2 separate regions of the Homo sapiens genome follow, and region 1 is linked to region 2. The links come from fine-mapping of genetic effects on gene expression. Tissue or cell type: hippocampus. Region 2 holds a variant in brackets; the other region holds the start of a gene. All regions are shown on one strand. Distances are from middle to middle.

Region 1 (2,500 bases), 150 kb after region 2:
GGGACTCACCTGCGCTTCTCCAGTTCATTGTGCACTGACCTGCCAATGCCAGAGAGGATGAGGTGAAGGGGAATCAGCTACTGCCCATGCCCCAATCCCAGGGCCCCCAGTGGCTCAAGAGCCACTACAGATGTCTGCCCCAAACAAGTCCCCTGTGGAGAGCTCATGCTGGCCTCAGACACCAGAGTCCCCTGGCAGGGCGAGGGGAGTCAAAGACACACGGAGCCAAATGCTTAACAGAAGCCTGCCCAGGTGGGTATGAGGGCCCTAACAAGGGCGCCTGCCAGCTGGCCAGAAAGGACCTCCCAGAGGTGACAGCTAACTGCGGAAACAGATGTTTCCCAAGCCGGTACTGGAGGGAGGGGCATTCAAATAGGAGGGAACAGCATATGCAAAGGGCTGGGGAGAGGAGAGAAGAGGAGGAAGCCAGCGGGGGAGGTGAGTGGCCTGATGTGTGGGGTGCGGGAGTGCGAGTGGAAGCGGGACCCCAACTGCTGTTGGCAGTTCCCGGCACATCTAGAGGTGCTCAAGAAATAGTCCTTGAATGAATAGAAAGGTGTGAGTGTGTTTGGAGAGTGGGGAGATGGCAGGAGGGGTCTGAACGCTTCCTGGAGCGGGACACCTGGCCCAAAAGATGCAAGCAACAAGTGGGCAGAGGAGGGCCCGACCAGGGGCGGCGCCCACCCCCACCCCCACTCCCGCCGCCCCCGGCCTCCTCACCGCCCGCTGTCCTGCGCGCCAGGAGCCTGGGGGGGTCGCTTCTTCCTCCTGTGGATGGGGCCTGGACTGCGATGCGGGCACAGGGACGCATAACCATGCTCGGCCTCTGCCAGAGAGAGTCCCCGCCCGCGTCAGGCTGGGGCTGGACCTGGTCCCAGCGGCAGCCCCAGGCACAGCACGGTCAAGGAAAGGCTTTTGGCGCCAGGACCATTTCCCCCACCCGTCCCTGCTCTACCGCCCCGGGACTCCTCTCGAGTTGAGGGCGAGGCGCCCCGGGATTACTGTCCTAGGGCGGTGCATCCTTCAAGCTGGGAGCCAGGTCCAGTCCAGGCCCGTGTCAGCGAGGTCGCCGCCCGGAATTCAGCCAAGGGTCCTTCCTCACCTCTCTCACGGCGCTCCAGGAACTCGGCCGCCTGCAGCAGGACCTGGATGTTGCTGGCCAAGGGTTCCATGTCGGCGACAGCTGGCGGCGGGCCGGCCTAGGGTGCCGGCCGGAGCAAGCGGCTGCAGCACTTTTGTTACAAAGTAACTGACACGGTGCAACAAACACAGGGGCCCGCCCCGCCCCCGGGACGCCCCGCCCGCGGGAACGCCCAGCCCTTGGCTCCGCCCCTCTGGAACCCGCCACGGAGCCGCAGCCCACCCTCCGGCAGCCGCCCCGCCCCGAGTGGTCTCAGACTTTCCAGGGGCAGGTAAGGGCGCTGGCTCCAGGCCTGGCCCTGGAGCGAACCCTCAGGCTAACCGGTGCTGCTTCTTGCCCGCCTCACTCATCCACCCACGCCGGCTCATTGGCGTCTTTGATCTCAGCTTCCAGCCCCGTGCTAGTGACTAGCCCCCAACATAGCACGGCGCTCTGGGGGCCTGGTGGTCCCCTGAAAGCGCCGGGCCCAGCCGCTGCACGTGGGTGCCGCGGGGGCGGGGCCTCCGGCCGCCGCTCGCCCATTCGCACATGGCTTCTCAAGGATCGCTGTTGTCATCCTCGGGGCGGGGTCGGGGAGCCTCTGATGCCCTATTGGCTGGCGCTCTGCCCCGCCCTCTCCCGCCGCTGATCCACACGTTCGGGCGGGAAAAGAAGCAGGTTTCAAATTTGAAAACCCAAGCGATGGGGCGGGGTTGAGAGGGGAGCTGGGCCTCAATGCGCAGGCGCCGGCGGAGGGGCGGCGGACCCGGCTCCTGCCCTCCGGGGTCTGTCCCCAAGCCTGCCTGCCATCTGCCCCCGAAGGCCCCCGTGGGCCCCAGCTTCCTACTGTGTCGAATGGGAATAATATCTCGGCCCCCCTCCTCTTCTGTGAGGAAGCTGTTGTTGCTACGAAAACGTCAGTGGGGTAACAGCTTCCTCAGGCAGGCCATACCCTGGAGGCACGCGAAATGGCCTTTTCCGGGGCCTTGGGCTCTGGTATCCACGCAGTTGGGGTCCTCTCCTGTCACTGATGTCTCAGCTGTGTATGACTCAGGAGGTGACCTCCGTCTCTAAGCCTCAGGAGCCCTGCGACAGCGTTGAAGGATCAGAGCCAATGCCTCTGCGGTGCCCATGGCATGAAGGAGCCGCCCATCTCAAAGGCCAGTGCAACCAGACCGCGGCGTTTGCCTCCCAGGCAGCCCCTGCTTGCCTTACTCAGAGTCCATAAACCCTTCTTGCACCTGACTCTCCTAGCCGGCCGAAGGAGTGGCTGTGATGACTTCTAGCCTCAGCACCAGCAGGTGGGGCCACATCTGGGGACAGGAAGATGAACGCAGCTGTAGCAGGGTGGAGCATTGCTGCCAGCCACGGGCTGAGTCT
Region 2 (2,500 bases):
TCCCCATGTTGGCCAGGCTAGTCTCAACTTCTGGACCTCAGGTGATCTGCCCACTTCAGCCTCCCAAAGTGCTGAAATTACAGGAGTAATTTTATTCTCCCAAAGCTGCTGCTTTGGGAGAATAAAAAGTTGAGTATGGGCCAGGCATGGGGGCTGATGCCTGTGATCGCAGCACTTTAGGAGACTGAGGTGGGAGTCTAGCTTGAGCCCAGTAGTTTGAGACAAGCCTGGGGAACATAGGGAGATCCGGCCTCTACAAAAAAAATAAATTAGCTGGGTGGAGTGGCATGTGCCTGTGGTCCCAGCTACTTGGGTGGTTGAGGTGGGAAGATATCTGAGCTCAGGAGTTCCAGGCTGCAGTGAGCTCTGATTATGCACTCCAGCCTGGGTGACAGAGTGAGATGCTGTCTCAAAAAAAAAAATTCAGTGTGGCGTGATTAGGCTGGGAGGGTGGGGCAGGAAGGGATGACATTGGAGGGGTAGGCAAGGTGTAGATAGACCTTTCCCTATATTCTCCTATTTTTAAAAAATTTTTTTCTAAATAGAGATAGGGTCTTACTATTTTGCCCAGGCTGGGTCTCAAACTCCTGGGCTCAAGTAATCCTTCCATCTAGGCCTCTATTTTTTGTGCAAACGATTGAAATTATATTTTTTTTACCTGAATTTTTCCTGTGAACATTGGGTTATTTATAAACCTGTTTTCTGTTTCTTTCTTTCTTTTTTTTTTTTTTTGTTTTTGTTTTTTGAGATAGAGTCCAGCCTGGAGTGCTGTGGCATGATCTTGGCACACTTGCAACCTCTGCCTCCTGGGTTCAGGTGATTCTCCTCCTCTAGCCTCCTCCACGCCTGGCTAATATTTGTATTTTTAGTAGAGATGGGGTTTCACCATGTTGGCCGGGCTGTTCTTGAACTCCTGGTTTCAACAGATCCACCTGCCTCAGCCTGCCAAAGTGCTGAGATTACAGGTGTGAGCCACTGTTCTAGGCACTTGTTTCTGTTTCTTAATTTTGGCTGCTACTCAGTGGGAAAAAGCACAGATTGAATCTAATTGAGGCCGGGCGCTGTGGCTCACTCCTGTAATTTCAGCACTTTGGGAGGCTGAGGTGGGCAGATCACCTGAGATCCAGAGTTCGAGACTAGCCTGGCCAACATGGGGAAACCTCATCTCTACTAAAAACACAAAAATTAGTTGGGCGTGGTGGCTCATGGCTGTAGTCCCAGCTACTCGGGAGGCTGAGGCATGAGAATTGCTTCAACCCGGGAGGTGGAGGTTGCAGTGAGCTGAGATCAGGACACTGCCCTCCAGGTTGGGCAAGAGAGTGAGACTCGGTCTTAAAAAAAAAAAAAAATCTAGTTGAAAAATGTCATCGGGTCTTTCCAAATTTTTACTAGGAATTTGTTAAAATTAACCAGGCTGGAAGTCATTAT[A/AGTTT]GTTTGTTTGTTTGTTTGTTTGAGATGGGGGTCTCACTCTGTCACGCAGGCTGGAGTTCAGTGGTAGGATCTCGGCTCACTGCAACCTCTGCATCCCAGATTCAAGCGATCCTCTCACCTCTGCCTCATGAGTAGTTGGAACCACAGGCATGTGTCACCATGCTTTTGTAGAGACAGGGTTTCTTTCGCCCTATTGGCTAGGCTGGTCTCAAACTTGTGAGCTCAAGCGATCCGCCCACCTTGGCCTCCCAAAGTGCTGGGATTACAGGCATGAGTTACCTTGCCTTGCCCATTATAGCTTTTTTGAGGCTGGGTCTTACTCTCTGTCATGCAGGCTGGACTGCAGTGGTGTGATCTAAGCTCACTGCCTCCTGGGCTCAAGCAGTCCTCCCACCTCAGCCTCCTGAGTAGCTGGCACAGGCGCTACCTCACCCATCTAATTTTTTATTTTTTTTAGAGATGGGGTTTTGCCATGTTTGCCCAGGCTGGTCTAGAATTCATGAGCTCAAGTGATCTACCTGCCTCGGCCTCCCAATGTGCTGGGATTACAGACATGAGCCACTATGTTCAGCCATACCTGGCTAATTTTTAAAAAATGTTTTCAAGAGACAGGGTCTCCCTGTGTTGCCCAGGTTGGTCTCAAGTTCCTGGGATTACTGCTGGCCTTCAAAAGTAAATGTGAAATAATTAGTTAATTTCTCCCTCAGTTGACAAATAATGCCAAAAGTGATAAAGATTAATGAAATGTCTCTTTTTTTTTTTTTTTTTTGAGACGGAGTCTCGTTCTGTTGCCAAGTCTGGAATGCAGTGGCACGATCTCGGCTCACTGCAACGTCCACCTACTGGGTTCAAGTGATTCTCCTGCCTCAGCCTCCCGAGTAGCTGGGACTACAGGCACGCATCACCATGCCCGGCTAATTTTTGTATTTTTAGTAGAGACGGGGTTTCACTATGTTGGCCAGGCTGGTCTTGAACTCCTGACCTCATGATCCACCCACCTTGGCCTCCCAAAGTGCTGGGATTACAGGCATGAGCCACCGCGCCCAGCCATGAAATTTCTTACGTAGAAAGG

Which allele goes with the higher level. Positions count from the first base shown, and alleles are read on the strand shown. Sizes are in standard deviations (SD) of each study's normalised expression.
As copies of AGTTT replace A in region 2, the expression in hippocampus of the gene that starts at base 1,240 in region 1 goes down (moderate effect, 0.50 SD a copy in GTEx).

Evidence for each region. PIP is the estimated chance that this variant, and not a neighbour inherited with it, causes the effect.
Region 1: it holds the start of MXD3, and the variant in region 2 is fine-mapped to the expression of MXD3 in hippocampus (GTEx, PIP 0.98).

What each region holds. Positions count from the first base shown.
Region 1 is chr5:177,310,659-177,313,158 of GRCh38, forward strand. MXD3 (MAX dimerization protein 3) reads right to left here and starts at 1,240. Exons shown (of 6, transcript NM_031300.4): 1 at 1,103-1,240; 2 at 721-826; 3 at 10-39. The coding sequence starts at 1,172. RefSeq lists enhancers at 1-207, 465-664, 2,315-2,374 and silencers at 1,215-1,394, 1,525-2,094.
Region 2 is chr5:177,160,964-177,163,463 of GRCh38, forward strand. All of the region lies in intron 2 of NSD1 (nuclear receptor binding SET domain protein 1), which reads left to right. Among named protein-coding and RNA genes, the nearest start is that of NSD1, 28 kb to the left of the region's middle. The variant A/AGTTT (reference allele first, on the strand shown) is at 1,429.